Regions from separate parts of the Homo sapiens genome. Here all the other regions are linked to region 1. Evidence: fine-mapped expression QTL. A gene starts in region 1. Each other region holds a variant in brackets. All regions are shown on one strand. Distances are between the middles of the regions. Region 1 holds the start of ELOA-AS1 (ELOA antisense RNA 1). Region 2 has its middle 9.6 kb from the start of MIR378F. Region 3 overlaps ELOA (elongin A). Region 4 has its middle 13 kb from the start of MDS2.

Evidence for each region.
Region 2: its variant is fine-mapped to the expression of ELOA-AS1 in whole blood (TOPMed, PIP 0.99).
Region 3: its variant is fine-mapped to the expression of ELOA-AS1 in whole blood (TOPMed, PIP above 0.99).
Region 4: its variant is fine-mapped to the expression of ELOA-AS1 in blood mononuclear cells (TOPMed, PIP 0.96).

Annotation. Positions count from the first base shown.
Region 1 is chr1:23,773,618-23,781,721 of GRCh38, reverse strand. It overlaps ELOA-AS1 (ELOA antisense RNA 1), which reads left to right and starts at 3,425. Exons shown (of 4, transcript NR_038280.1): 1 at 3,425-3,523. PITHD1 (PITH domain containing 1) reads right to left here and starts at 3,304. Exons shown (of 6, transcript NM_020362.5): 1 at 3,009-3,304; 2 at 2,241-2,284; 3 at 1,781-1,858. The coding sequence starts at 3,206. RefSeq lists enhancers at 1,175-2,374, 3,628-4,580 and silencers at 2,925-2,974, 3,065-3,374.
Region 2 is chr1:23,934,654-23,942,757 of GRCh38, reverse strand. No RefSeq gene overlaps it. Among named protein-coding and RNA genes, the nearest start is that of MIR378F, 9.6 kb to the right of the region's middle. The variant C/A (reference allele first, on the strand shown) is at 3,838.
Region 3 is chr1:23,753,272-23,761,375 of GRCh38, reverse strand. ELOA (elongin A) reads right to left here. Exons shown (of 11, transcript NM_003198.3): 6 at 7,121-7,276; 7 at 6,916-7,013; 8 at 5,353-5,533; 9 at 4,991-5,102; 10 at 4,251-4,423; 11 at 1-1,864. The coding sequence ends at 1,803. ELOA-AS1 (ELOA antisense RNA 1) reads left to right here. Exons shown (of 4, transcript NR_038280.1): 4 at 225-994. Among named protein-coding and RNA genes, the nearest start is that of ELOA, 14 kb to the right of the region's middle. The variant G/C (reference allele first, on the strand shown) is at 3,892.
Region 4 is chr1:23,609,968-23,618,071 of GRCh38, reverse strand. No RefSeq gene overlaps it. Among named protein-coding and RNA genes, the nearest start is that of MDS2, 13 kb to the left of the region's middle. RefSeq lists an enhancer at 5,203-5,252. The variant C/A (reference allele first, on the strand shown) is at 3,926.

The DNA.
Region 1 (8,104 bases):
CAGCCATTATTTGAACCCAGTTTACTCCAGATCCCACACTCTAAATCACAATGCAGCATGGATGCCTAATATTCTCAGGTCAGTCCATCAACTTCCAAGTAAATGAGTCTCCAAAAGCATCAAAGGTATTATTTCCTTAAAATGATTAAATACATGGATTTGCTTTCAAATTCATGTTTCTAATACTCAACTATAATATATCTTAAATCTCTGGAAGTCCTTTAATCAATTTTTCAGATGAATTTTTTTTTTTTTTTTTGAGACAGAGTCTCACTCTGTTGCCCAGGCTGGAATGCAGTGGTGCAATCTTGGCTCACTGCAACCTGCACCTCCGCGGTTCAAGTGATTCTCATGCTTCAGCTTCTCCAGTAGCTAGGATTACAGGCCTGTGCCACCGCACCCAGCTAATTTTTGTATTTTTAGTAGAGACAGGGTTTCGCCATGTTGACCAGGATGATCTTGAACTCCTGGCCTCAAGTGATCCGCCCGCCTCGGCCTCCCAAAGTGCTGGGATTTGAATTATTTTTTTCTTTTGAGATGGAGTCTTGCTCTGTCACCCAGACTGGAGTGCAGTGGCACGATCCTGGCTCACTGCAACCTCTGCCACCTGGGTTCAAGCGATTCTCCTGCCTCAGCCTCCCAAGTAGCTGGGATTACAGGCGTGTGCCACCATGCCCGGCTAATTTTTGTATTTTTAGTAGAGACGGGGTTTCAGCATCTTGGTCAGGCTGGTCTTGAACTCCTAACCAGTCTCGGCATCCCAAAGTGCTGGGATTACAGGTGTGAACCACCATGCTCGGCCTTTAGGATTTGAATTTTTTATTTATTTGTTTTTATTATTACTTTTGAGATGGGGTCTCATTCTGTCATCCAGGCTGGAGTGCAGTGGCGAGATCTCGGCTCGCTGCAACCTCCGCCTCCCAGGTTCAAGCAATTCTCCTGCCTCACCCTCCCTAGTAGCTGGGATTACAGGCACGCACCACCAGGCCCAGCTAATTTTTGTTTTTTTAGTAGAGACGGGGTTTTACCAGGTTGGCCAGGCTGGTCTCGAACCTCAGGTGATCCGCCCGCCTCAGCCTCCCAAAGTGCTGGGATTACAAGTGTAAGCCACTGTGCCCAGCCTATATATCATCTTTTATTGGTTTTGTGAGATAAGCTACTGCACCCGGACTGAATTTTTTAAATGTAAAGTTCTTCTTATATGTTTCTCCAGCACTCAGAAAGCAGTTTTCCCCTTCTTTTAGGAAGGCTGTTCTGGAATAAGGTAAGTTGTCAAAAAGGGTACTAGCTCTGGTGGCAAAAGATTCAGTGTTGCAAGAGGTATACACAACTTTGCTAACTAAATGCCACGCAAAGTCAGGTGGAGCAATTCCATGTCAACAAAACACATAAGATCATTACTGTATGAAATAGCAAGGAAAAATGTTGAAGCTAACCCCTAGAATCCATAAAGATCATATGAGATCTGCAGCTAGTTATTAAGAAAACTGCAGAGTCATCAACAAGTGACATTTACACAATGCTCTCTGAATGAATCATGTCATAGTAAGCACTTTGAAATATGAGACACGCTGTTGGGCCTAAAGATGCTTAATCTAAAAAAGTCATTAATTCAGGAAGAAATATATGTATTCCAATGCAGAATGAGAACAGGACCAAGATATTTTAAAAGGGGAAATATTAAACCCGGTAAGAAGAAAATGATACTATTCTGGAATAAAATGTTACCAGAAAAAGAGAATTAGGAGCTCCTTTGAGGGCCTAAGCCTTTGCCACTTACAGTCTCATCTCAGAGGGGTGTGAGTCATCATCCTCTCCCATTATAATGATGCCTTTGAGCTTGACATTGCCCGTAAATCTGCCAGAATGCAAAAGAGAAGGTTGTCAAACCTGAGTTTGAATACCTGTTTAGTTGTGTGACCCTGGGCAAGACCCTTCCCCTGTATGGGCTTCAGTTTACTCATCTGTCAACTTGTACTAGATAATTTCTAAGATCCTGTCTACCTCTAGCATTCTACAATTCTAAGAAATCTACCTCAATTTCTCAGTTATTGTTCTACAAATACATCTGTTTCCAGTCTGCACCAAGAAAGCTATGATGCTTTCCTCCTCAAACCCACCAAAGTAATTTATCCCATTTCTAGAAGCAAATGTGTGCTCTTGACACCAGTGAATGAATCCATCTGAGGCAACTGGGTACAGCCTATTTAGCCTGAGGTAGGCACCAAGGAGATACTTACGGAATATTAAACAGAAGCTCTTCATCTGCATCACTTTCAACAAACTGGAGGGGATGGGGAGGGGGGAGGAGAAAGCAACAAATATTTGCTGAGAGCCTACAATTTCAGGCATCTCCCACCCTGCTCTACAACTGGGGTGCAATGGGAAGAGTCACTCTCCCTTGGTTTTCCAAGACTTATTAACTTGAAGCTAACCAGTCTTATCCAGTGTCATAACAGCCACAGGCCACCCAACTGGAAGGTTCTTAACAAAAAGCCCATGAATGAATTTCCAGGGTCGAAGAGCCTTCTGAAGTGTGAACTGAAAGGCAGGTGTTTATGTGCATTTTTCTGAGAAGAAGGTCCACTGCTTTCAAACAGATAGCAAAGGGGCCTGCGACCCCACAATGTAAAGAACATTTGCTCTATATGGGAACCACCTTTCATCTCCCTAGGCTCATCTTCACCAGGTAATATGATGAGGCAGCCATTAGCACCAATGGTCCAACGGCCCTCACGACCATCCTCTCTAGCCCACACAGCCCTGGAATAGAGCGTTAGGCTGTGTAGCTTGACAAAACTGTCCCCGTTCCCTCTAGGCCTCAGTTTCCCTATATGCAAAATGGGGAGACAACGCTGCTCGCCTCCCAAAGAGCTGGCAGGAGACAGGCACGGAAAAGCGCTTGGCAACCAGGCTGTCGTTATTCTTAACATCAGAAATGAGTAGACCGACGGCCCGAGGCCCCACACGCACCCTGCCCCGCCCGCCCCAAGCCCCAGGCGGCCCACCTTGGAGCGGTCGGTCCGCTCCTCCCACGGCTTGAAGACGCCGCGGCCGCTGCCCTCGCGGCTCTCGTTAAGGCATTGCAGCCGCTCCAGGTCGATGCGCAGGTACAGGCCGTAGGCCAGGCCGCGCTGCTCGGGCGGCTCCTCCCGTTCGGCGGCGCAGCGGCAGCCACCCCCGCCGTGGCTGTGACCGTGCGACATGGCAACGCCGCCACCTGCGCGTCCTCTCGGCCCCACCGCCGCGCTCGCTCGGCTCGGCTCGCCTCAGACCAGCTCCGCGCCGTTCAGCTCCGGCAACTAAGCGCGCCGCGCCTGCCGCGTCGTAAAAAGCGCCGCTGCGCGGCGCATGCGCGTGGGGAGAAGGCGGGGGGGCGGGGGGGGTGGGGTCGAGCGGAACTGACGTAGGACGCGCGCCTCCCAGGTGCCAGAGTTCGTATATGACTCCAGTCCTGGCGCTGGATGCTGCTGCTGTTCCAGCTTCCTAGGTGTGGAAACTGAAGGACCAAGAGATTAAACAGGTGTGCTGAGTAAACTCACAGGCTGAGATTCGAATTATCCTCCCCCGACGAGGATGGAGCCTTCGCTGTCTTCCTTGATCGCCACGTTTCTTTGCGAGCCGATGAAGGAAAGCGTGAGGAATGATAAGGCCCTGGAGACTGGAGAACGCGAGCTTATCGCTGTCTCACATGCGCACGGCTTAGACGTTGAGAGCTCACAGGCCCACTTGCATAACCACTTTCTTGATAGCGGGGTTACAGCTTGAGAGCATGGGGCTTTGTGCACGGCCAGACCTAAAGACTACTCCTGGGTCTGCTACTGGCCATTGTGACACCTTAAGTCATTTCCCCTATTCTGAGACTCCGTTTCCCCGTCTGTAAGGTGGAAAGAATAGTATCTGTTTCATAGGATCACAGTGAGTATTAAATGAAATAATGCAATTAAAGAACTCAGCAGGCCGGGCGCGGTGGCTCACGCCTGTAATCCCAGCACTTTGGGAGGCCGAGGCGGGCGGATCACGAGGTCAAAAGATCGAGACCATCCTAGCCAACATGATGAAACCCCGTCTCTACTAAAAATACAAAAATTAGCTAGGCGTGGTGGCGCGAGCCTGTAGTCCCAGCTACTCGGGAGGCTGAAGCAGGAGAATCGCTTGAACCCGGGAGGCAGAGGTTGCAGTGAGCCGACATCGCGCCACTGCACTCCAGCCTGGCGACAGAGCAAGACTCTGTCTCAAAAAGAAAAAAAAAGAAAAAACTCAGCAAATGGCTGACACATGATGGGCATTCAGTAGCCGATGGTTATTACGGTCAAATCCAACCACAGCAACTTACTAGCTGCGTGGCCTTGGGCAAGTGACTTGATCTTCTGAGACTCAGTTTACCCCCTGTGAAGTGAAGGGATTGGACTAGATGATCTCTGCGTTTCCTCCCCCATGTGATATTTCAAAGTACTTTTTTTCGAACAGCTGGTTGTGGCCTGTCAATAGGTTTTAAAATCCGTTTATAGAGAATTGTGATCAACATTTAAAAAAAAAATAGAATACAAAAAAAAAAAAACCCAGAATGTATCACACATTTCAAGTCTCAATTGATGAAACTTTTGTTTCAGTTTTGAGTTTGTATTCAGACACAATATGATGTGTTTTTCATATTGTGGGTTGAGATCAAAATAATTAAAAGTCACTGTTTAGAGGTGAAATAATCTTGTTTTCAGGATAGAATGTTTTCCTACTCCCTGGTGGGGAAAAGACAGGATACAGAAAGAGAGTTATGGGATACCCTGGCTACCCTCTTCCCTTCACATCTGGCTCTGGAGTGCTCAGTGGGGCTGGTGAAGTATAGACCAAAATATCCATTTTTTCAAGTTCCATTCAGAAATATTTTCTGGGCCACATGCAGTGCCTCATGCCTGTAATCTCAGCACTTTTGGGAGGCCAAGGTGGGAGGATCACTTGAGCCCAGGAGTTTGAGACTAGCCTGGGCAACATAGGGAGACCCCATCTTTACAAAAATAATTAAAAATATTAGCCCAGCATGGTGGCTCATGCCTGTGGTCCCAGCTATTTGGGAGGCTGAAGTGGAAGGATCTCCTGAGCCTGGGAGGGTGAGGCTGTAGTGAGCTGTAATCATACCACTGCACTCCAACCTGGGTGTCAGAGCAAGACTGTCTCAAAAAAATAAAAACAAGAAAAATATTTTGATGTCCTATTTTAGTTACTTGTGCAATAAGCAAGCTTGGTTCTGTTTCAAAATAGCTCAGTGCCGTGAATTATTCCTGCTTTTAGGTCACAGTTTCAGGTAAGGGACCTGGAATGTGGCAAACAGTAAATGTTTACTTGACTGATATACTTGGTAGCCTTTCTTTGGTAAGAGTGTCCTTTTGAAGAACCAACTCAGGCCTTACCCCGGAGATCTACTCATTTTGGCTTTTTCCTGTTGCCTTCATTAATGATTTATTTGAGCACTGTGTGCTAAGCACATTATGTAGTTCATCTCAATTAATTGTCACATGAACTTTAAGAGCTAGGTACAGCCAGGTGTGGTGGCTCACACCTGTAACACTTTGGGAGGCCGAGGCGGGTAGATCACTTGAGGTCAGGAGTTTGAGACCAGCCTGGCCAGCATGGTGAAACCCCGTCTCTACTAAAAATAGAAAAATTAGCCAGGCATCGTAGCGTGTGCCTGTAATCCCAGCTACTCGGGAGGCTGAGGCAGGAGAATCGCTTGAACCCAGGAGGCAGAGGTTGCAGTGAGCCGAGATTGTGCCACTGCACTCCAGCCTGAGCGACAGAGCGAGACTCCATCTCAAAAAAAAAAAAAAGAGAGCTAGGTGCTATTACCTACTGTTATCTCCAATTTGAAGATGAGGAAAACTGAGGCTGAAAGAGGCAAACTAACTTGTCTGAGACTAGGTAAAGTTAGGAGGTAACCAGGCTTTGAACACATCCTGTAGTGTTCTTGTAACACATCAGTAGTTTCCTGGTTAGGGTGGGGAGGTTGAGGCGGGAGGTGCACACAAAGTAAATATGCTGTATCAATTAGCTTATGCTGTGTAACAGATTACCCTAAAACTTTGATAGCTTTAAACAACAAACATTGATTAATTCGCATGATCCTGTGGATTAGCTTTTCTGGGCCAGTTCAGCTTGGGCTGGAAAGTTTGGGATGGTCTCACTCTCGTCTGCTTGATGCTGGCTGTTAGCTGGGATGATGGGACCACGTGTCTCCAGCAGACAAGCCTAGCTAAATTACATGGTGATAATTGCAGAGTTCCCAGGAGCAAGAGAGGGCAAGACTCAATTGCACAAGCACTTTTTTTTTTTTTTTTTTTTTTGAGATGGAGTCTTGCTCTGTCACCTAAGCTGGAGTGCAGTGGCACAATCTCCGCTCACTGCAACCTCCCCCTCCCGGGTTCAAGCGATTCTCCTGCCTCAGCCTTCCGAGTAGCTGGGATTACAGGCGCCTGCCACCACGCCTGGCTAATTTTTGTATTTTTAGTAGAGATGGGGTTTCACCATGTTGGGCAGGCTGGTCTCAAACTTCTGACCTCAGGTGATCTGCCCACCTCGGCCTCCCAAAGTGCTAGGATTACAGGCATGAGCCACTGCGCCCTGCCAGCACAAGCACTTTTTAAGCCTTACATCTATAATCTTTCTATAATGACCCATCAGCCAAATCCAAATTCTAGAGTGGAGAGCTAGACTGTAGACTTCACCTCCTGATTGGAAGAACTGCAAAATACTGTGGCTCCTCCCCTCCCAGTAGGTCTGTATTAGTTGTCTTTTGTTGTGTAACAAATTATTCCCAAACTTAATGGCTTAAAACTGTAGCAGGACAAGCTGCAGATAAAACCTGTCAGACACCAGGTTAAAGAAGGAAGAGACTTTATTCGGCCAGGAGCGTTGGCAGAGTTGTGTCTCAAGAACCAAGCTCTCCAAAGAAAAAGTTCCTGGCCCTTTTAAGGGCTTATAACTCTAAGGGGGTCCACGTGAAAGGGTTGTGATAGATTGAGCAAGTGATCTATAGGTAACACATGTGGTTAGGGTGGGGGCGTTAATCTTTAACCTCAGGCCTGGTAAGTGGCATCAGTTGGTCTTGCCACTGACTTCATTCCTGTTGTTTTTCAGCTTTTACTTCTTCCTTCTCTTCAGAGACAGTAAGAGAAATGGCCTCTCTCCTCAAAACAACAATTAACATTTATCATCTCACAGTTTCTGTGAGTTAGGAATTTGAGAGCGTCCTAGCTGGGTGGTTCTGGCTTGGGGTCTCTCATGAGCCTGAAATCATATGAAGGCTTGGCCAGGGCTGGAGAAGCCCCGGCTGGCAAGTTTGTGCAGGCTCTTGGCAGGAGGCCCCAGTTCCTTAACACATGGACCTCTCAATAGTACTGTTTGAGTGTCCTCATGATACAGCAGCTGGTTTTCAGCAGAACAAGTGATCTAAGGGCAAGGTAGAAACCACCAATGTCTTTTATGACCTAGCCACAGAAGTCCCATATTGTCAATTTTGCAACATCCCATGGTTTCACAGGTCAGCCATATTCAGTGTGTGCGGGAACTTCATAAGAGTGCAGATACCAGGAGGTAGAAATCATTAGAGGCCACCTTAGTGGCTGGCTACCATGCTGCCATACATGTTAAGTGGCACTGAAAATGGCTTTATTCTACTGTACTTAATTAGTAGTTTGGCTGTGGATAGAATTCTTTCATAATTGTGAAGAAATTGCTCTGGTTTTCTTCTGGCTTTGATAAATACAATGCTGTTCTGAATCCTGATTCTTTTTATGGGTTTTCCCCCCACCCCACCCCGTTTTCTGGAAGCTTTTAAGATCTTCTCTTGGTATTCTAGAATGTGATGATTTTTGTTGTGCTTTGGTCTCTTTTGTCATTCATTGTGCTGGATACCTGAGGGACCTTTTCAATTTAGAACCCCTAGAACAAAGTGTGAGCACACAGGTTAGGACCTCTGCATGCGTGGACACAAGGCCCTTCCAGGCACACAGATTTAGAGATATGGAGAGAATGGGGCAGGGCTAGGGTCCTGTTCTCTGCCTCTCACCACCTTCTAGTACAGAACTCTGAGAGGCCCAAAAATGTGAAT
Region 2 (8,104 bases), 160 kb before region 1:
TTCAAGATAGAATGATAATTGTCTGTGTCATTAACAGTTATTGTTTGTAATTTGATTCTAATATTTCCTTTTCTTTTTTTTTTTTTTTTGAGATGGAGTTTCACTCTTTTTGCCCATGCTAGAGTGCAATGGCTCAATCTCGTCTCACCACAACCTCTGCCTCCCAGGTTCAAGCGATTCTCCTGCCTTAGCCTCCCAAGTAGCTGGGATTACAGGCATGCACCACCATGCCCGGCTAATTTTGTATTTTTAGTAGAGGCAGGGTTTCTCCATGTTGGTCAGGGTGGTCTTGAACTCCCAACCTGAGGTGATCCGCCCGCCTCGGCCTCCCAAAGTGCTGGGATTACAGGCGTTAGCCACCGTGCCCTGACTAATATTTCACTTTTATCTTATTTAATAAATTAATTTGATGTATGCTTGTGACATGGGGTTCTCTAACCCCAGAGCAAGGGGTTGTGGAGCCCAGAGCAAGGGCCTCTCTTGCCTGATCTCAGGGGTAATATATTTGCTTGTATGTCCTTAAAATCTAATATAATGAAATGTAGATCAACTATGGTATCTAATAGTTCTGTGACAGCTATCTCCACTAGAAGGATCCTGGAGCAGGCATTGACCACATACAAGGACCACAATTGCCACCAAATACTGTGGCTCAGGGTTCTCCTTTTGGCAGCCCTTATCTGGTAAGACCCTGGCAAAGTTGACACTTCAAGCCCTCCCTTCTTCCTTCCTTTTCAAGGATCTGGACGCATAAGAGTTACAGGCTCTATACACAGGGACTTTCCTTCCTGGAAACCCGGTAGGAAATCCCATTATGGCTGCCTGTTTGCCAAACTATTCCCTTGACTGACAGGATGCAGCCTATTCAAACTTCTCTGTGTCTGTTGAAAAAATGCATGTATAAAAAAGGCATGGCCTCACGTAATTAATTAGGCATCTGTAAGGGAGAGAAGATGATCTTTCCCTTACGCATCGCAGGATTCACGGCTGAGAGCCCATAAGAAAGAACAGATAGGCCAGGCACGGTGGCTCACGCCTGTAATCCCAGCACTTTGGGAGGCCAAGACGGGTGGATCATGAGGTCAAGAGTTCAAGATCAGCCTGGCCAAGATGGTGAAACCCCGTCTCTACTGAAAATACAAAAATTAGCCGGGTGCGGTGGAAGGCACCTGTAATCCCAGCTACTCAGGAAGCTGAGACAGGAGAATCGCTTGAACCTGGGCGGCAGAGGTTGCAGTGAGCCAAGATTGCATCACTGTAGTCAGGCCTGGGCGACAGAGTAAGACTCTGTCTAATAAAAAAAAAAAAAAAAAAAAAAAAGAAAGAAAAGAGAGAACATAGAACAACAGAGAAGCATAATAAATCTATTTAATACAAATTTTATGTGACATAGGTGACTAAGAAATTAAGACTCCGCCAGGCACGGTGGTTCATGCCTGTAATCCCAACCCTTTGGGAAGCCAAGGCGGGTGGATCACCTGAGGTCAGGAGTTCAAGACCAGCCTGGCCAACATGGTGAAACTCCATCTCTACTAAAAATACAAAAATTAGCCAGGTGTAAAAATTAGCCAGGCGTGGTGGCAAGCGCCTGTAATCCCAGCTACTCGGGAGGCTGAGGCAGGAGAATCGCTTGAACCCAGGAGGCAGAGGTTGCAGTGAGCCAAGATCGCGCCATTGCACTCCAGCCTGGGCAACAGAGCAAGACTCCATCTCAAAAAAAATAAATAAATAAAAAATAGGCCGGGCGTGGTGGCTTACGCCTGTAATCCCAGCACTTTGGGAGGCCGAGGCGGGCAGATCACGAGGTCGGGAGATCAAGACCATCCTGGCTAACACGGTGAAATCCTGTCTCCACTAAAAATACAAAAAATTAGCCAGGCGTGGTGGCAGGCGCCTGTAGTCCCACCTCCTCAGGAGGCTGAGGCAGGAGAATCACTTGAACCCAGGAGGCAGAGCTTGCAGTGAGCTGAGATCGCACCACTGCACTCCAGCCTGGGCAACAGAGCGAGACTCCATCTCAAAAATAATTATAATAATAAATAAATAAATAATAAAAAAATTAGCCGGGTGTGGTGGCGGGCGCCTATAATCCCAGCTACTCAGGAGGCTGAGACAGGAGAATTGCTTGAACCCAGGAGGCAGAGGCTGCAGTGAGCCGAGATCTTGCCACTGCACTCTGGCCTGGGCAACAGAGTGAGACTCCGTCTCAAAAAAAAAAAAAAAAGAAAGAAAAGAAAAGAAAACAAAAAGAAATGAAGACTCAAAGAAAGAAACAGGGGAAACTTTAGTTTTATGGACAGTTATGCAAAGTATGACTGGAAGAAGAAAATGTATAATCCAATACCTTTTCTGATAATACACCAGGGGAACTTAACCTATTTGTCCTAATTCTTCTCTGTGTCTGTGTCTTCATTCCCTTCCTCTGGGTACAGGGAATAACTCCAGCTTTAAAGGAAAGTCAGAGAATTCTTTCATGGCTTACTTTAGGGAAGAATAGTGGAAAGTCAGAGAGCCCTTCATGCTTCTGCTGTTTTCTCAAATGTCAAAGAGGCCATATTTTGGGGTAACATGTCCTAAACTGTGCCCCATACTGTGGCATTAAAGAAATCAAGTTGGACTGGGCACGGTGGTTCACACCTGTAATCCCAGCACTTTGGGAGACCGAGGTGGGCGGGTCACCCAAAGTCAGGAGTTCGAGACAAGCCTGGTCAACATGGTGAAACCCTGTCCCTACTAAAAATACAAAAATTAGCCAGGCGTGGTGGTGCACATCTGTAGTCCCAGCTACTTGGGAGGCTGAGGCAGGAGAATTGCTTGAACCCGGGAGGTGGAGGCTACAGTGAGCCAAGATCACACCACTGCACTCCAGCCTGGGTGACAGAGAGAGACTCCATCTAAAAAAATAAATAAATAAAAAATAAAAAAATCAAGTTGAAGAAAAGTATATTTTCATGGCTAGGCGTGGTCACTCATCCTTGTAATCAGAGCACTTAGTGGGGGCCGAGGCAGGAGAATTGCTTGAGTCTAGGAGTTCCAGACCAGCCTGGCCAATATAGTAAGACCCCATCTCTACAAAAAACAAAAAATTAGCCAGGCGTAGTGGCACATGCCTGTAGTTACTCAGGAGGCTGAGGTGGGAGAATCACTTGAGCCTAGGAGGTTGAGGCTGTAGTGAGCCATGGTTTTACCACTGCACTCTAGCCTGGGCGACAGAGAAAGGCCCTATCTCAAGAAAAAAAAAAAGAAAGAAAGAAAAAGAAAAGTTATGTTTTGTTAAAGGTAAGTGTCAAAATAGATTGCCAAATTAAAAAAAGTTTTATAGTATTATATAAAAGTATATTCAATAACACACTTTTATAGAAAGTGTAACAGCTGTATTTGTTATTTATTGATGCATAACAAATTATTCCAAAATTTAGCAGCTTGAAACAACACACGTTTTACTCACGGTTTCTGTAGGTCAGAAATCTGGGTGCAGCTTAGCTCGTCCAGAAGACGAGGCTCTCTCAAGATTGAGAGTTGGTTCAGAGTCTTTCACAAGATTGCAATGAAGGTGTCATCACAGACTGCAGTCATTTCAAGGCTTGGCTTGAGAAGAATCCACTTCCAAACTCACCGCATGGCTGTTGACTTGAGGCATCATTTCCTTGCCTTGTGGACCTCTCCACGGGGCAGCTTACATTATGGCAACTGTTTTCCCTCAGGGTAAGTTAGGGAGGATGAGAGCTTGCAAGGTAGAAGTCATCGTCTTTCTGCAACCTAATCTCAGAAGTATCCCATCACTTTTTTTTTAATTTAATTTTTTTTTAGAGACAAGGTCTCACTATATCATCCAGG[C/A]TGGTGGTCTTGAATTCCTGGGCTTAAGTGATCCTCCCACCTTAGCCTTCCAAAGTGTTGAGATTACAGGCATGAGCCGCTGTGCCCAGTCTCTCTCTCTCTCTCTTTTTTTTTTTTTTTTTGTAGTAAAATACACATGACATAAAAGTTACTATTTTAACCCTTTTTAGGAGTACAGTTCAGCGGCATTAAGTACAATCTTCACCACCACCCGTCTATAGAATTCCTTTCATCTTGCAAAACTGAAACTCTCTACCCATAAAACAATAACTCTGGGCCAGGCACAGTGGCTCACGCCTGTAATCCCAGCACTTTGGGAGGCCGAGGCAGGTGGATCACCTGAGGTCAGGAGTTTGAGACCAGCCTGGCCAACATAATGAAACCCTGTCTCTACTAAAAATACAAAACTTAGCTGGGCATGGTGGTGGGCGCCTGTAATCCCAGCTACTCAGGAGGCTGAGGCAGGAGAATCACTTGAACTCGGGAGGCAAAGGTTGCAGTGAGCCGAAATGGCGCCACTGCACTCCAGCCTGGGCAACAAGACTGAAACTCCGTCTGAAAATAATGATGATAATAATAATAACTCTGCACTCCTCCTCTCTTTCCAGACCCTGCAACCACCATTCTATTTTCTGTTTCTATCTCTATGCAATTGACTACTTTGGGTAACACATATAAGTAGAATCATACAATATTTATTCTCTTGTGTCATATTTGTCCTCTTGTGTCTTGTAGCTTATTTAATTTACTGACCATAATGTTTTCAAAGTTCCTTCATGTTGTAGCATATGTTAGAATTGTCTTCCTTTTGGCCAGGCACAGTGGCTCACGCCTGTAATCCCAGCACTTTGGGAGGCTGCGGCGGGCGGATCACGAGGTCAGGAGATCAAGACCATCCTGGCTAACACGGTGAAACCCCATCTCTATTAAAAATACAAAAAAAAATTAGCCGGACATGGTGGCGGGCGCCTGTAGTCCCAGCTACTCGGGAGGCTGAAGCAGGAGAATGGCGTGAACCTGGGAGGTGGAGCTTGCAGTGAGCCGAGATTGCGCCACTGCACTCCAGCCTGGGCAACTGAGCAAGACTCCATCTCAAAAAAAAAAAAAAAGAAAAAAAAGAAAAAAAAAGAATTGTCTTCCTTTTTCAGGCAGAATAATATTCCATTGTATGTATATTCCCATTTTGTTTATCCATTGATCTGTCAACAGACATTTGAGTTGTTTCCCCTTTTTGGCTATTGTGAATAAGGCTGCTACGAACATAGGTATTCACAGGCTGTTCTAGTCCCTGCTGTCAATTCTTTGGGGTGTACGCCCAGAAGTGAAATTTCTGGATCATATGGTAATTCTAGCTGTTCCCTCAGAAGCACGTGATCTTTGTTAGACCCTTATTAGTGGTTCTGCTTTTTGCCCTTTGAAGCATGTGATCTTTGTACCTACTCCCTGTTCTTACACCCCCTCCCCTTTTGAAACCCTTAATAAAAACTTGCTGGTCTGAGACTTAGGCAGGCATCACGGTCCTACTGATATGTGATGTCACCTCCAGCAGCCTAGCTGTAAAATTCCTCTCTTTGTACTGTCTCTCTTTATTTCTCAGCCGGCCTACACTTATGGAAAATAGAAAGAACCTATGTTGAAATATTGAGGGTGGGTTCCCCCAATATGGTCCGGGGGTAGAGAAGAGAATTTTCTGAAACTAGAACATAAAAATGTAAGGGTTAATGATGTAACCACCCAATGGATTCTTCCTGCCTGCTGCATAAACAAAGACCACAGCATTGCAGTAACGAAAGAGTACAATAGACATGAGGCCGGTCACACAATGTGACAGACAGAATTAGGACTCAAATAAATCTCATCCAAAGCTGGTAGTTTAGGAGTTTTCCAAAGGCACTTTCGAGGAAGGGCTGCGGTGGCTAGGCTTGCTGCTGATTGGTTGGGACAGAGATGAAATCATAGGGGGTGGAAGCTGTCCTGAGTGCTGAACTACTTCTGAGTGGGACCACAGGAGCAATGTCGGTGGGTAGAGGCAGAGCCAGGTACGGGTGGAGCCATTGGTTTCAGACTTCCAAAAACTGAAAAGATACTCAAAAGGCCAATCTACAATAGTGGTGTTACCTGCAGGAGTGGCTGGCAATTAAACAATTTCTTCACCTTAGCAGAATTCAGATTCCTCTCCTCCCACAGCCTGATGACCTTTCATTGGCTTAACAAAGACAGTTGAGTTTTGGGGAAGGCCTATTATCATTTAAAGTATAAACTAAATGTCTCTCAAAGTTAGCTCAGCCCCAAAGCCCAGGAATAATTAAGGGAAAGGCAAGATGGGTGTGGATTAGATCAGATCTCTTTTACTGCCATGATTTTCTTACTGTTATAATTTTTGCAAAGGTAGTTTCTCTTTTTATTTTATTTTATTTTATTTATTTATTTATTTTTTTATTGATCATTCTTGGGTGTTTCTCCCAGAGGGGGATTTGGCAGGGTCATAGGACAATAGTGGAGGGAAGGTCAGCAGATAAACAAGTGAACAAAGGTCTCTGGTTTTCCTAGGCAGAGGACCCTGCGGCCTTCCGCAGTGTTTGTGTCCCTGGGTACTTGAGATTAGGGAGTGGTGATGACTCTTAAAGAGCATGCTGCCTTCAAGCATCTGTTTAACAAAGCACATCTTGCACCGCCCTTAATCCATTTAACCCTGAGTGGACACAGCACATGTTTCAGAGAGCACAGGGTTGGGGGTAAGGTCACAGATCAACAGGATCCCAAGGCAGAAGAATTTCTCTTAGTACAGAACAAAATGAAAAGTCTCCCATGTCTACTTCCTTCTACACAGACACGGCAACCATCCGATTTCTCAATCTTTTCCCCACCTTTCCCCCCTTTCCATTCCACAAAACCGCCATTGTCATCATGGCCCGTTCTCAATGAGCTGCTGGGTACACCTCCCAGACAGGGTGGTGGCCTGGCAGAGGGGCTCCTCACTTCCCAGAAGGGGCGGCCGGGCAGAGGCGCCCCCCACCTCCCTCTCGGACGGGGCGGCTGGCCGGGCGGGGGCTGACCCCCCACCTCCCTCCCGGACGGGGTGGCTGGCCGGGCGGGGGGCTGACCCCCCCACCTCCCTCCCGGACGGGGTGGCTGCCGGGCGGAGACGCTCCTCACTTCCCAGACCGGGTGGCTGCCGGGCGGAGAGGCTCCTCACTTCTCAGACGGGGCGGTTGCCAGGCAGAGGGTCTCCTCACTTCTCAGACGGGGCGGCCGGGCAGAGGCGCTCCTCACATCCCAGACGGGGCGGTGGGGCAGAGGCGCTCCCCACATCTCAGACGATGGGCGGCCGGGCAGAGACGCTCCTCACTTCCTAGATGTGATGGCGGCCGGGAAGAGGCGCTCCTCACTTCCTAGATGGGATGGCGGCCGGGCAGAGACGCTCCTCACTTTCCAGACTGGGCAGCCAGGCAGATGGGCTCCTCACATCCCAGACGATGGGCGGCCAGGCAGAGACGCTCCTCACTTCCCAGACCGGGTGGCGGGCGGGCAGAGGCTGCAATCTCGGCACTTTGGGAGGCCAAGGCAGGCGGCTGGGAGGTGGATGTTGTAGCGAGCCGAGATCACGCCACTGCACTCCAGCCTGGGCACCATTGAGCACTGAGTGAACGAGGCTCCGTCTGCAATCCCAGCACCTCCGTAGGCCGAGGCTGGCGGATCACTCGTGGTTAGGAGCTGGAGACTGGCACGGCCAACACAGGGAAACTCGTCTCCACCAAAAAAATACGAAAACCAGTCAGGCGTGGCGGCGCGTGACTAGGCACTAGGCAGGCTGAGGCAGGAGAATCAGGCAGGGAGGTTGCAGTGAGCCGAGATGGCAGCAGTACAGTCCAGCTTCAGCTCGGCATCAGAGGGAGACCTTGGAAAGAGAGGGAGAGGGAGACTGTGGGGAGGGGGAGGGGGAGGGGGAGGGAGAGGGAGAGGGCAAAGGTAGTTTCAATGGGATTATGAAAATTGGTATATTTTGCAAATGAAAAATAAAATTGTAAGTCCCCCAACCATCTGAATGGATCCTCCTCTCAACCAAGAGCATTCCAAAGTTAACCTGAAAAATTAGTTCAGGCCATGATGGGAAGGGGGAGTTGGACATGCCTCGTTATTCCCTCCTCCCTTTTGGAATTCAGACACAGCTGACCAGCATTAACATTAAAACAGATCTTAAGACTGATAGAACAGGTCAGGTGCAGTGGCTCATGCCTGTAATCCCAGCACTTTGGGAGGCCAAAGT
Region 3 (8,104 bases), 20 kb after region 1:
GGTAGACACCTAGAAAAAGCTATTCTAGGCAGCAGACATCTGGCACCTGACCCAAATGTTCATTTGGTTTCAGTTAAGAGGCTTCCTAATATTAGATTTGTGGGGCAGGCTAGGGATAGGGGTGGAATGGTGGTACAAGTAACCAAGAGAAGTAAAGTAATGCTTTACCCATTCAAAAATATAGCAAATTAAAACATAGTAACATTTGTGTCCTGTCACAATAGGCACCCTGCACAGCAATACACACTGAACAATGTCGAGTTTCTGCTGAATAGACTTCCTACGTTGCTCTGGAATTCGAAGTTGGCCTAACTGAGGTCTCCAGTTACAGAAAACACTGGCTCTGTATCCTGGGCTTTGAGAAAACTTATCAGGCTGTCACACTTACCATCCCTTCAGTCTGCTTGTCAGGTTCCTTAAGGACGCATATCTCAAATGTATGGCATCTACCTCTACCTGGGTCACAACCAAGTGGGTTTCTACTAGATCGGTGTTCCTTGACAGCCAACAAGGGAGCTGACACTGCCCTCCTAAGTTCTGATCTTGCTCCTGTTCAACTGGAACTTGATGGATCCCATGTGGTTTCCCCCATCCTGACGCTGTGGCTCAGACACTCTCCCTAAGCTGGTCCTTCCCTCCAAATCCTGCCTTAAACACACTCAGAAGGTAGAAAACACTTCAGCAGCAAAGTCCTCTTCCCAAGCCAACAGTTGTGTTCTTCCAATCACATGATCTTACCTTTTCAATAAAAGGCAAAACAAACCAATTTCCAACATAGCATTACAGCCTTTAAAACCATTCACTTCTCATAGTGATTCACAGAGAACAAGAGATTAAAGTGCTGGATTTTAAATGTCTAAAGTTGCCTTCAGGGCTACAAAAAGCCCTGCCGTGTGTGTTTTTCCTTCATGGTGTTGAGGGGAAGGAAAGATAGGGAAGGGCAGTGGGGAGAAACCCTAAAATTTTCAATCAGAAACTGGAAATTGTAAAAGTGGGAGGTGGGGAGTTCTGTGCAAATCAATCTCCCAAGGTTCTGCGTCCTCTAGTGAGCCTCAAAGAAAAAAAAAAAAACAAAAAGGTGGGGACTCGCAAAAAGGATGAGGGAAAGGCTCCAGACCTACAGAGCACCTCCCTTAATAAATACCAGTTAGTAAGAAAGAGATGCACCTGCACAGGAATGCACAGCAACAGTGGGGAGGGCCTGAGGTGGAGTCCGCCGAGCACCCTGTCGCCCCACTGAGGCTCCCTTGGGGACAGGCGGTCTAGTGCTCATTCCTTGCCCTACGTGCAGCAGGTACTGTGCAGGCTCTGGAGATGCCCAGTCCTCTGTCTGGACCAGAGTCCACACAGAGCTGAGCTGGGGCAGGAGACTGGCTTTCACTAGGCTTTCATCTGATTTTAATAAGGACCTGGAAGATAAAAGGCTAAATGTGTGGTAGAGGACAAAAAACAAAAACAAACCTGGGGGATAATATAAATACAATCTGGGGGCAATATTTATTAATTAAAACTACGTCTTATAGTTTACAAAGATGCTAATGAACAACAAAAGTATAATTGACCTTTAAAATCCTCAGTGAGACAGAGGCTTCACATCTTCAGAATTCTAAAGTGTGCTCCAGGCAGGGAGGCGGGGCTGTGGCACGCAGGTTCCCAGGGGCAGCACCTGCAGACTGCAGGACTCGGAGACCAAAAGGATCCACAAAGCAAGACTCCAGTCTCCTGTAGAATTCCATTCCCCAACCCCCACTGTCCTTGTATTCCTGCCTCCCCAGATTCCATTTCCAAGGCAAGTCCTCAGTTTATCGTCGGGAGAATCTGTTCTTGAAAGCTTTAATTGTCTTGGCCATCATTGGGGCAATTTCTGTGAAAAGAGAAACAAGGCAGCTGTCTCAGATCTGTGGCGGCTTAGACACACCCCCAGTAGTTTACAGTCAAAGCCAGCTCTGCTATTCTTGGCTGTGCACCACCAGGCAGAGATACAAGTAGTAACTATCTCCTCTGTTCACAATGCAATAAAAGCAACAGCACAGAGCAGACACTTTCGGAGGACCTGCCAGGGGCATGACCACCACTCTCTCTAACCACCTGCACCAAGGCTCAGAGAGCCTGGCCAACTTGCCCATGGTTGTACAGTAAGGTACAGAATTACAATTCAATCTCTGTCAGACTTTCTTGTTTTTATTTTTGTAAGGAAAGAGTCTCACTCTGTCACCCTGGCTAGGGTGCATTGGCACAATCACAGCACACTGTAGCCTCTACCTCCTAGACTCCAGAGTAGCTGAGACTACAGGAGTGTGCCACCATGCCTGGCTAATTTTTTTTTATTTTCTGTAGAGTCAGGGTCTCACTATGTTGCTCAGGCTGGTCTCGATCTCCTGGGCTCAAGCACCCTCCTACCCCAGCCTCCCAAAGTGCTGGGATTACAGGTGTGTGTGAACCACTGTGCCCCGGCCCTTGCCAGACTCTAAAGGCCATACTCAGTCATAACTTAACTTTGCCTCACAAATAGCCAAACCAGTAAACAGCACGTCTACCCCCAATCTGTCCAGTGTAGAAACAGGTCTAAGGTGGCTATGCAAGTACTGCCTAAGGAAGGCCAGCCTGCCTCCTGAATGGTTCATCTGAGCATAGCTGTAGCTCAAGCCAGGACTCCCACCCTCCCATGGGCCCTGCAATTAATACAGAATAAGACTTAAGTTAGGACATCCCCTTAGGATACTGGGGATAGTCTATGGTAATAAAGTTAACAAAATACAAAATAGACGCAACTAGATATAAAGAATAAATATTTGGAAGACCCGGCCAGGCATGGTGGTTCACGCTGGTAATCCCAGGACTTTGGGAGGCTGAGGCGGGCGAATCACAAGGTCAGGGGTTCGAGACCAGCCTGGCCAACATGGTGAAACCCCGTGTCTACTAAAAATACAAAAAATTAGCTGGGCTTAGTGGCGGGCACCTGTAATCCCAGCTACTTGGGAGGCTGAGGCAGGAGAATCGCTTGAACCTGGGAGGTGGAGGTTGCAGTGAGCCGAGATCACGCCACTGTACTCCAGCCCAGGCGACAGAGTGAGACTCTGTCTCCAAAAAAAAAAAAAAAAAAAAAAAAAAAAAAATAAATAAATAAATTGGAAGACCCAATTAGATATAAAGAATAAATATTTGGAAGCTAGAGTTATAAGACTATAAAAAAACAGTAAGAGGGCCTGTCATTTAGCTGTTAATATTAGTAATTATGAACACTGTGGTATTGCCTAGAGAAGTCAGTTTATATTTAGGTGAAAAAAGAAGAGTGCCAAAATGGTCATTCACAATGATATTTATTTATTTATTTAGAGACAGTGTCTCACTCTGTCATCCAGGCTGGAGGGCAGTGGCACAATCCCAGCTCACTGCAACCTCTGCCTGCCAGGTTCAAGCAATTCTCCTGTCTCAGCCACCCGAGTACCTGAGATTATAGGCACATGCCACCATGGTGGGCTAATTTTTCTATTTTTAATAGAGACAGGGACCATGCCTGGCCAGATACTATTTTCTACTTTCACTTTTTTTTTTTTTTTTTTTCCAGAGACAGGGTCGGCCGGGCACAGTGGCTCACGCCTGTAATCCCAGCACTTGGGAGGCCAAGGCGGGCAGATCGCGAGGTCAGGAGATCGAGACCATCCTGGCTAACATGGTGAAACCCCGTCTCTACTAAAAAATAGAAAAAATTAGGTGGGCATGGTGGTGGGCACCTGTAGTTCTAGCTACTTGGGAGGCTGAGGCAGGAGAATGGCATGAACCTGGAAGGCAGAGCTTGCAGTGAGCTGAGATTGTGCCACTGCACTCCAGCCTGGGTGACAGAGCGAGACTCCATCTCAAAAAATCCTCCCACCTCAGTCTCCTGAGTAG[G/C]TGGGACTACAGGTGTGTACCACTATGCCCTATTTTTTAATTTTTTGTAGAGGGTCTCATTATGTTGTCCAGGCTGGTCTTGAACTCCTGGATTCAAGGGATCCTCCTGCCTCAGCCTGCCAAAGTGCTGGGATTACAGGCATGAGCCACTGCACCCAGACTCACTATAACTATTTAAGAGATATAATGCACTATGGACAAAGCAGGGGGAAGGAGGGACTGACATTCAGACCAGCTATGTGCAAGGCATCATGTACATGCAACATGCAGTCCACAAAATGTAATACAGTGAATAATGACATTGAGAGTTAAAAACTAGTGCTGAAATAATATTTGAGCAGGAACTCCAAGTTACTTACTCTTCACAGTGGGTTTCCTAGGATCATAGGAAACAGTGCTGCTGACCACTGGTGCCAAGTGGGCACTGCTGGTGCTTGGGCCATCATAGGCCGGCTCCTCAGGGCTGGGGTTAAAGCTGATGCTACTGGCGGAAGCATGGCTGCTTCCCATGGGGTACGGGGCTGGCTTGATCCTGCAACACAGGACAACACTGGTTAGGCATGAGCACAAGAAATCTGCCCTGAGCATGAACAGCCTGAAGCTGGCCTGTGTGAGGATGACTCACCCTGTTTGTGGCTTTGACCAATGGACCCTATCACCCTGGATTCTGGTGGTGGCTCAGAGATGTCTCCATTATCCTTTCAGAAAAAATGATAATCTCAACTAACTTTTCACTGTTTTGGTATAAATCTGTATTTTGAAAAGGCTAATGTGGCTTAGACAAAATAACAATCATTGCAGAAATGTGTTTTTTGTTTAGATGGGAAAAGGGAAAGCATAAGGGAATGTTTCCCATAAGCCAGGCTTTGCTCTCCATTTAATCTTGACTACCCTAGGGCAGGGGTAATTATCACCTTGCACTGCAGTCCAAGAAGCGGAGGCTGAGGGAGGTGAGGGAAGTGCTGAGCTGATGAGGTCTGCCTCCAGAGCCCACAGTCTGCACTGCCTCACTTTCACCAAAAGCAATTTGCTTCCTGCCGCTATGGCTACCTCTAAGGGTTGATAGCACACAAAAGCCAGGTAAGAACACAGATCTTACTTGATTTTCTCAGGGACAGCTGCTCCTCCCGTTCCAAACTTTTCCTGCCTCCTCCGGACGTCACGAGGTGGCTTGGCCACAGAGTTGACAAAGGCCATCTTTGCTTGTCGGCCTGTGGAATTATGGAGATGAACATCTGCCTTCTTGAGCAGAGATGCTACTGTTATTTAAATAATCCACGGGCTTTTTGAGTGCCCTGAAACCCCACTTGTAGGGTAGAATGGGCGGTGGCAGAAGAAATACCCACCCTGCTACCTGATGTAGGGGCAAGCAGTCCTACACCAGCCAAGCCCACCAACACCCTGCTATTGACCAGAACACTCATCCTGCCAGTTCTCCCCCAGCTCTCCCGTCTCTGTTACCTTTGGGCTTATTGGCATGTGCGAACTGGATATTCTTTGTTAGTACTCGTAGCCGCTGCTCTCGGGCGTCCTGAAGCCGCAGGTACATCTCTCGCCACGACTCATACTCTTCGGGTCTTTCTTCCTTAAAGTCTCGGTGACAATGAACTTTCCATAATTGATCTGTTTCTTCAATTAATACCTGAAACCAGAACCAGGACATCATTTGTGTACAAGCACTTTTCCATATTTTTTTTTTTTTTTTGAGACAGAGTCTTGCTCTGTCGTGTAGACTGCAGTGCAGTGGTGCAATTTTGGTTCACTGCAACCCTTGCCTCCTGGGTTCAAGCGATTCTCACGCCTCAGCCTCTCAAGTAGCCAGGACTACAGGTGCTTACCACCACGCCCAGCTATTTTATATTTTCAGTAGAGATGGGGTTTTGCCATGTTGTCCAGGCTGGTCTCGAACTCCTGACCTCAGATAATCCGCCCACCTTGGCCTCCCAGAGTGCTGGGATTACAGGCGTGTGTCACCATGCCCAGCCTCATATCTTTTTCTGATTATTTAATTACCTAGGAGTGACCAGTTTCCCAAAAATTTTTTGGTCTTCATCTTAGTAGTATGTTAAAATACCACAATTCTAGGAAAAAAATAACTCCCTAAATTTTAAAAATGCGAAGTGTGAGGCACTATGCTAGTTGCTTTTGGTGGCTGTGACAGAATATCACAAAAATCTGTGTAACATCAGTCTTTTCCTTTAGAAAATCAGCAAAGGGTAGAACTGCGATCAAGTCAAATCAGGTACTTCCCAACACTACGCTGAACTGTGATGGCAAAGGGGCAACCTAAGAAGGATGTTAAGTTATTGGCCAGGCGCGTTGGCTCATGCCTGTAATCCCAGCACTTCAGGAGGCCAAGAGTCTGAGAGTCCATCTCTCTAAAAAATAAAAATATTAGCCAGCTGTGGTGGTATGTGCCTGTAGTCCCAGCTACTTGGGAGGATCACTTAAGCCCAGGAGTTCAAGGATGCAGTAAGCCATGATTAGGCCTCTGTACTGCAGTCGAAGCAACAGAGGTAGACCCTATCTCCAAAAAAAAAAAAAAAGGTGTTAGGTCATAGAACTTTCAGAATTAAAGAGAGACAGCTGATGCAATCAAATGTGTATACCCTACATCCTAAGGAGGATTCTGGATAAATCTTGATGTTTCTTAAGAGACATCCAGCCAATCACCAGATGTCAGAGTGTCAACACAAAGTGCTTTCCCCGCCCTGGGTCCCAGCTACTCTGCTGCCAGAATTCTCCCTTTACCTTCATGACTAGGCAAGCTCAAGGGAGATGTTAAGTGTTTTTCTTCTCCCTTTGAATCCCACCCTGATCCTAGCCCAAGAGGCCCACTTAAGGTGCCAGGAGCAAGTGCTAATAACATGCTTGTTTAAAGGCCCAGTGGCAAACCAAATATATCCAGAACAATGCTCTGACCACTGATCTGCCCTTCAGCCACAGCGGAGTCACAGGGACAAAGCTATTTCTGGAGGTACAAGCCAGAAAACTGCCCTCTTCCCACCCAAACAGAATACTCACATGATTGTATTCCTCTATGCGATACAGCTGATCAGGTGTACACCTCTCCAAAACGGGTTCAAGAACAGAGTATGGGACTCCTCCCACTTCAAAGATTGCTGCAGAGAAACCAAAGGTGAAGACACTGAGTAGCAGCCAAGCCACCCAGTGATAAGGTCCAAGTGCTACAATGTGCTTGAGAGCTAGAGAGAAGCGTGTGACTTACAATCGATGTTGTTTTTAAGTACTCGGATGCATTGCTGGTGCAAGGTCATCATTTTAGGGAGATAGGCACACTTGGAACCAGAATACACCTGCATCTTGGAATTCATTCTGCGCCCAGTAAATCCAGCTTCTTCTTCTTCCTGGGGTGAAGAGAACGCTATAGGGCAAGAAAAACACAAAAGGCCCTAAGTGATCCAGTGAAAACTCTCCTTCTACCCCCTTCAGCCTCCTACTTCCCTTTCCCAATGGCAATCCACGCTACAGATTTTTGTAGATCCTTCCAGAGAATTTAAAAATAAGCTCCTGTAATCCCAGCACTTTAGGAGGCCAAGGCACATGAATCATCTGAGGTCAAGAGTTCGAGATCAGCCTGCCCAACATGCACCTGTAGTCCCAGCTACTCAGGAGGCTGAGGCAGAGGAATTGCTTGAACCTAGGAGGTGGAGGCTGCAGTGAGCCAAGATGGAGCTACTGCACTCCAGCCTGAGTAACACAGCAAGACTCTCAACAGCAACAACAAAAAAAAGCAAATGTATCTTATTCCTTTTAAGCCAATGAATCAATTAATAACATACTCACTACATACATTGCTTTTTTTCATTTGCCACATCTGAGAGATCATTCCATGTCAGTGCATAGACTTTCCACATTTTTTTTTTACTGTGGCATAGGATGCCACTGTGTAGATGAACCATGATTTATCTGTTAGTCTCCTGCTGATAGACCCTTATGTGGCTTCTACTTCTTTTGCTATGAAAATTAGACATTTTTTTCTTTCAGACAAAAATCCTATGTAACACATAGGATAAAGGGCTGCTAATAACAGCAGCAGCAATTTACTGAACAATTACTATGTGATAAACCCAGAGCAAAAAGGCATCACTTCTGAATTCATTAAACTGAGCCCTATGGGGCAGATACCATTATAACTCCCATTTACACAATATATACAACTAAGGTCCAAAGAAATTAAGATATTTCTCAA
Region 4 (8,104 bases), 160 kb after region 1:
TGCAGCAGGAGTGACATGGTCAGTTGTGGGTTCTAGAAAGATCTCTGTGGTAGGCTGGGCATGGTGGCTCACACTTGTAATCCCAGCACCTTGGGAGGCCAAGGCAGGTGGATCACTTGAGGTCAGGAATTCAAGACCAGCCTAGCCAACATAGTGAAACCCCGTCTCTACTAAAAATACAAAAATTAGCCAGGTGTGGGGGTACGTGTCTATAGTCCTAGCTACTTGGGAGGCTGAGGCAGGAGAATTGCTTGGACCCGCGAAGCGGAGGTTGCCGTGAGCCGAGATTGCACCACTACACTCCAGCCTGGCCAACAGAGTGAGACTCCATCTCAAAAAAAAAAAAAATCTCCATAATAGGTATGGAGGATGGACAAAGGGGGAGGAAAGGGAGGACAGATTCAAGTTGTTGTGGTGAGCTGAAGGAGGCCTGAACCAAGGTAATGGCAATGGGGTGGGGTGGGGGGGAGTTGGGCAAGAACTTTCTGAAACTGAACAGCAGTAGATCCAGGAGAACAATTAGAGGGAGAGACACAAAATAAAGGTGACAGAATTTCCTGTATCAGGAGCTGAGGTAGATGATGACAGCATTAACCCAGGAAGGTGGCAGGCAGAGCGAGGTCACCTTTGAGGTACCTCCCAGATGTCCATTTCCTCAAGAACTGACTGCACTACACACCCAGATATAGGACTAGATAAGACCCAAGATCATCGAGGGAGAGGCAAGAGAGAGAGAATATTAGGAATCTTTTGGTCGTAAGTGACAGAAACTCAGTTCAAATTAGGTTATGGAAAACAAAACAAAAAGAAAAACGATACTACAAACGTAGTGGCCCCTTTATCTTAGAGTTTCAAGGGTGAGTCAAACTTCGGGCATTGCTGGATCCAGGGTTTCCAGTGATGACATTGGGTTATCTCCCCATCACACCCATCAGTCAGTTCTGTTTGTCTCTGCCTTTCTTTAAGAATGGGGCTTCTCGGCCGGGCATGGTGGCTCAAGCCTGTAATCCCAGCACTTCGTGAGGCTGAGCCAAGCGGATCACTTGAGGTCAGGAGTTCAAGACCAGCCTGGCCAGCATGGTGAAACCCTGACTCTACTAAAAATACAAAAATTAGCCAGGTGTGGTGGTGAGTGCCTATAATCCCAGCTACTTGGGAGGCTGAGGCAGGAGAATTGCTTGAACCCGGGAGGCGGAGGCTGTAGTGAGCCAAGATCGCACCACCACACTCCAGCATGGGTGACAGAGTGAGACTCTGTCTCAAACAAAAAAAAAAAAAAAAAAAGAATGGGCCTTCTCTCCCATGGCAGATAGGCATTCTCCAGTCCCAGGAAAGATGCTCAAATGTTTACATCCTACCAGCTCTCATTTCAGGAGAGAGCCAAGCTTCGCCACTGGCTCCATCGAAAGTTCCAGGGAGGGCTCTGATTGGCTCAGCTTGTATCACATGCCCAGGCCCAAACCAATCACTGTATATCAAGGAAAATGGGACACTGTAATTGGCCTACTTGCCTTCCCAGTGGGTGGGGCCCTGTGAGGGATACCTGACCAGAGCACATGGACAGGAAATGAGAAGATTGGAAAAATATGCCGGGCAGACAAAAGAGGTTCCAGCCCTGCCTCAGTTTACAATGAGGCTTGAGGGCAGAACCCTGGGGAACACTAATATTCAAGGGTTGGCTGGAACTTGGGAAGGAGACTGAGGGGTATGAGAGAGGTTCTGGGAGAAGCAGCGTCTTCGAGGGAGGAGAGAAGTTCTACAAGGAGGTAATGGTCAAAGGCAAATTCTGGAAGGGGTCACTCACACTCACTGTTCTGGGCTCCAACCACCCACCCTCACCTGACATGGAAAGGCTCTGGGACCCGGTTTCACCAACACTGATTATGCCACCTCCCCCAGCAGAGTCTGTTTGCTTATCTGTGAAATGGGGGCAATGACAGAACACCCACCCCATAGGGTGACAGAGAAGGCTGAGTGAGAGACACTGAGAAATGCTTACCCCGGTGCAATGTAGCACCACTCAGGCACCATTCATTCATTTATTCATTTATTCATTCATTCATTCACTCACTCATTGAACAATCTTTAACTGAGTGCCTCCTTTGTATCAGTCCCTATGCCAAACACAGTGGATGTAAAGAAGACACAGGGATCTGAGGATGCGTGGGATACAGACCTGATGGTGGATGGTTATGATACAGGGTGATAAGTGCTGAAGGGACTGGGTTTTGCAAGCCCAGAGAAATTTGGTCCACATGGAGGCCCCAGGGCAGCCCCCTGAGGAGACAACATTTGAGATGACATTTCATGAGCACTCACCATGGGTCAGGCACTGGGTGTGCCAAGCGTTTCCACGTTGTTCCTGTGACGTCGGGGAGGGGATGGGGCCCAGAGAGGGTGGGAGGCTTACTCAGGGTCACCGTGCTCGTAAGTGGGGACACCAGGGCTGGCCCACCTCCACTGGATGAGTTTGCCAGATGGGGAGAGAGGAGAGACAGGATGTCAGGCAGAGGGCAAAAGACAATGTGACCCAATCCTCTAGGATGGGGAGAGGAAGCTGGGATTCCCATAGGGAAAGCCCATATCTGTAGAAGGGTGGGCCAGAGGCAGTAGGACAAGGGCAAGGTGAGAGCCATGACCTCCAGCAAGTCCTGTGCCTCCTGGAACCTCCGTCTCCTCCTCTATGAACTCAGGATAAGGACATCTATTATATTATCTTCATCTCCATTTTACAGGTGAGAAACAGATTAGATCAAGGCTATCCAGTTGCAGAGCCCACGAGCTGAGCCATGCACTGTGGTTCTGCTGGAGCAGATGAGATGTATGAGTTCCCTGCAAACCCTCCTGTTTGTCTCAAGAGTGGGAGCCATGAAAAGCACCCCAAGAGTAGGGGGGAGACTTCATGGGAGCAGCCCTCAGAGAGACCCAGAAGATGCTCCTGTGCTCCTACCCAGAAATTCAGTCTCTTAAGGACCTTAGAGACAGTTTCATTCATGCATTAGTGAGGAGCGATGCCTACAACTTGCAAATGGAGAAACTGAGTTCAGAAAGGAGGGAGTGACTTGTCCAAGGTCACACCACAAGCTGGTGGTAGAAATCCCTCCAGAATGCAGGCATCCCAACATCTGGTTTTGTCCATTTCTCCATTCCCCTGACTCCTCACAAATGACTTGTCCCCTTGTCCCCAGCATGGTGATCTCTACCGGTCCTGAGCATTTAATATGGGCCAGACTCTTCGCCTTACTCTGACTCTCCAAGCCACCCTATGAAGTGGTATCCAAAGGCAACTTACTTACTTAAATACATGGCTTATTGATAGTATGTTACAAAACACATAAAATAATAATTGATGTATCTGCATTTCATGACCACCCTATAAATTGCACAATTCCTATTTTACAGATGAGAAAATTAAGGCTCAGAGATGGGAAAAGACTGTCTCAGGGACACACAGCGAGCAAGCAACAGGGTGAGGATTAGTATCCAGGCATCTCTGACTCCAAAGCAGGGGTGTCTTGTCCACACCCCAAGCTGCTGTCAGGGAACAGATGGGAGAGCCTGCAAGGGGAGGTGAGAGGAAGGTGCTGAGCCCCAGTCATGAGCGAGGTGACAGTTATTGTAGTGGCTAAACAGGTGGCCCCTGAGATCAGGCTGCCTGGGCTGGAATCCTGGTCTACCACTCCTTAGCACTGTGCGTTCAGGCAAACCATTGGTCCGCTCTGAGCCTTGACTTCCTTATCTGTAAAATGGGCGTGGTAATAATATGCCACCCTCATTAGGTTCCTGGAAGGGTTAAATGAGTGTGTAGCCCATGGTACATGCAATGGAAGTGCTGCCTCTTATTTGTGTGGCATTCTGCAGTGACTGTCTCGTGTACTCTCAATAGTGCTTATAACTCTTACGGGTTCTGGAGCTAGCCACCTGG[C/A]CTCTGCTACCACTTCCTAGCAGGGCGGCAGAGCTTAGAGGGAGATTTAAGGTGAGGATGGTGAGGTTTAAGTCCTGGGTCCCTCATTGGCATGGCCTTGTACTTCATTATTTAAAGAGACCCCCCCGCCCTCAGTATTGTATAACCTTTACTGACATCCTGCCAAGCCTGGATCTGCCCCTGTGTGAGGAACTCTACCTCTCTGTGTGCCTCAGTTTTCTCATCTGTTAAGTGGGAAGAATGTTAATTGTGCCAAATAAATGAATTAATACGTGTAGAATGCTTTAAAAGTGCCTGGTGCATAGTAAATGCCCAATACCTATTGGCTTCTTAAGTAAATCTCCAGTGGTAAATGTGCTTAAGTGCTAGTAAACGTGTTAAATGCTTTCCATGTGTCATGTGGTTTCATTATTTTTAATCTTCACAACAAACCATCCCATTTTCAGAGAGGTGAAGTAACTTGCCCGAGGTGACAGACTGTGGAAGCCAAATGGGTCTGACTCCAGAGCCAGGCCCCTGACCACCGTGCCAGCTACTTCCCTGTTGATGAGGGTTCCCTCCCCTCCCCACTGGCAGCTGAACCTGGAGGACTCAGGTCACACCTCCAGCAGGTACTGTCTGCCAGGCCCAGGTCACCTGAAGGTGGCCTATGAGGCCCCTGCAGGAAAGAAGCCCCCATGTCCAGCTGGGCCCAGGCCCTGCCCCACCTCGCACCCTCATCCCTCCTGCCCCCTAGAGCTTCCTCCTGAGCTCCCGTCACCAGAGGCCCTGGCCCAGGTGGGGCGGGGGCTAACGGGTGACAATGACCGATTTAGAAAGTAAAGTTGCTTCTCAAACAAATAAGAAAGAAGAGGAAAGAAATGGCCTGCCCGCTTCCTGCCCCACTCTCTCTTCCAGCACCTGGGGCCCAGCTGCAGGCTTTTCACTGCTTGTTTGTTCATCCTGCCTCGAGAAGCCTCTTCTTGAAGCCCCAGGCCCCCTCCATATGGGCGTTGGGATAATTGTTGAGCCAGTGGAAATAAGCACCCTCCATGATTGTTGTATTGTCATCGTCTCCAGTATTGTTTTGGACAACAATACCAGTAATCATAACAATCTGGGTTTCCTGCGGTTGGGAGGGGGGGACTACCAGCTTCGACTTGGGAGAAGTCCCCCTGGCTCTGCAGTTTCTGAGATGTGGAGGCCTGAGCAGGTCATAACTCCTCTCTGGGCCTCAGTTTCCTTGTCTGCAAAATGGGGACAGGGTGATGGTGAGGGCTGAATGGGGCAAGCATGGCCTGTGAAGCATAGTGCATGGCCCTGGTGGGAACCATTCAGTTGATTACTATGAAAGCCAGGGTCACACAGAAGCAATTTTAAGAGCCTCCTCAGACAAGGTTGGAAAGCTCAGTGGACTCCAGGATACAATGCTTATAAAGCCCTTGGTGTGTTTCTAATAACTGCTCTGAGTGCTTTATGTATTATCATTCATTTCATCCTTACCACAACCAGATGAAGCAGATGCTATTGCTGTTCCTATTTCATAGATGAGGAAACTAAGATGCAGAGAAATGACTTGTCCAAGGTCAGCACAGCTGGTAGGTGCAATTGGGGATGTGGATGCAGCCTTTCCAGGTCCAGGATCGGTGCTCTAAGCTGCATACACTGCCCTGGGGTCAGGGTCTGGCTCTGAAGGGTCTGACTTGCCTCGCGATCGTGGACAAGTCATTTGCCTTCTAAGCCTCAGACTTCTTCTACAAAATGAGCAGCCCATGATACCTGCCTGTAGATGTTGTACAATCCTAAAGGAGAGTTGTGGTCAGATTAGCGACAATGTAGAGAAAGACAATGAATGAGTACACCAGGGGTTCAGGAAGCCATGGCTGACTGCGATCATTATTATTAGTTTTAAAGTCACAGGCAAGAGGCAGCCTAGAGGATGCTGAGGGCCCTGCCCAGCTTTGAAAGTCTAAATCCTGTGGTTGCAGCTGGGGAGTGACTCCGGGAGGCACCTGGTGAGAGGTGGCTCCACCCGTTGGGGCTAAAAAAATCCCTGAGGCTGCCACCGTGCAATCTGCCAGTCACCTGCTCCAACTAATGGCAAACTCTCCAACCCTGCTTCCCTGCCCCTACCCCCACCCCCTATGAGCTGTGTGGCCCTGGAGAAATCATCTGACCTCTCTAAGTTTCTGGAAAAAAACACTGACCTTGTAGAGCTTTGTTGGATTGGAAATAGTGCCTAGCAATAGGTAGTTGCTACCAGGTGATGAGAACCTGCACTTTGAGGCCCACTTGTGTTCCAGTCCTGGCTATGCTACTTCCTGTTGTGTGACCTTGGGCAGGTTGCTTAGCCTCTCTGAGACTCAGTTTCCACAACTGGAAAATGGATTAGCACAGCACCTGACACACAGTAGGTGCTTAAGTGCTAATGATTATTGTTGTGTATGGCCATTTATTGTATTTTTTTTTTTGGTTTTTGAAATGGAGTCTCACTCTGTCTCCCAGGCTGGAGTGCAATGATGCCATCTCAGCTCACTGCAACCTCTGCCTCCTGGGTTCAAGCAATTCTCCTGCCTCAGCCTCCTGAGTAGCTGGGATTACAGGTGTGTGTCACCACAGCCAGCTAATTTTTTTTTTTTTTGGAAATGGAGTCTCACTCTGTTGCCCAGGCTGGATTTGCAGTGGTGCGATCTTGGCTCACTGCAACCTCCACCTCCCAGGTTCAAGCAATTCTCCTACCTCAGCCTCCCGAGTAGCTGGGATTACAGGTGTGTGCCACCACACCTGTGTAATTTTTTGTATTTTTAGTAGAGATGGGGTTTCACCGTGTTAGCCAGGATGGTCTCGATCTCCTGACCTCGTGATCCACCCGCCTTGGCCTCCCAAAGTGCTTGGATTACAGGCATGAGCCACTGCACCCAGCATTTATTGTATTTTATAAGCATATCCAGAAGTCCTTTAAAGATCCTGAGGGTATTATGTTCTTTCTCATGCTGGATCTCTCTGTTTGCCCCTCTAGAACTCTCCTCTGCCCTTCCTCAACCTGTTCTGTACCTTGATTAGGTGACCTTTGTGGGTGACATCAATGGCCCCCATTGCCCTCTGGCTTCTGGCTGGGTGAGGCAAGAGGACAGAGGACAGGTGGCAAGTGGGGACTGGTATTTATTCCCCAGCCCCTTCCTACAGGGTTGCCACCTTGGCTGTGTCCCTCACCCGAAGCCTACAGCTCCTATCAGGCAGCCCTGTGCATACATCTCTGGCCATGGGTCCAGGTGACCTCTCCCTCCCCACCCTTCAGGCCACAGGTGGTAACAGCTCCTCATATTGCCTGCCAGCCCTGGGGTACTGCACCATTCCCCCTGGTTTTCCTAAACCTTGTCCACACCTTTGTTAGTAGTCCCTTCATTAAACTTTTTACAAATTACCCATTTGGTTATACCATCTGTTCCCTGCCAGAGCCTTGATCAGGGTTTATGTGGCATGTATCCTGTTGTTTTCACCTAGAACTCCAGGTATGGAAGAATAATAAAATTCTCACTGCAATTCACACTGCTTTCACATACATGTAGTCATCCACTTTATTAATTACTGCTGAGCATCTGCTGTGTGCCAGGCTGTATGCAAGGAATTAGGAGTAGAGATGACCAAGATATAGTTCCTGCCCTCAAGGAGCTCCTGGGCTAGTCAGAGAGACAGACCCTAAACAGACAACTACAATATAACTTCTAAAAGCTGTAACAGGCCGGGTGTGGTGGCTCATGCCTGTAATCCCAGCACTTTGGGAGGCTGAGATGGGTGGATTGCTTGAGGTCTTGAACCAGCCTGGCCAACATGGTGAAACCCCATCTCCACCAAAAAACACAAAAATTAGTTGGGCATGGTGGCATGTGCCTGTAATCCCAGCTACCCAGGAGGCTGAGGCATGAGAATCGCTTGAACCGAGAGCGGAGGTTGCAGTAAGCCGAGATCACGCCACTACATTCCAGCCTGGGTGACAGAGCTATAAAAAAATAAAAGCTATAATAGAGACACATGCAAACCCTGTGACAAGGCAGGAGAGAAGCCACCAAACTCTGGGAGAGGCTGGGATGGCTGCATAGCAGAAGGATTTTTGAGCAGCATCTTTTTTTAAATTCTATTTTAGTAACATATTTAATCCAATGTCTCAAAATATTATCAATATGAAATATTATCCATTAT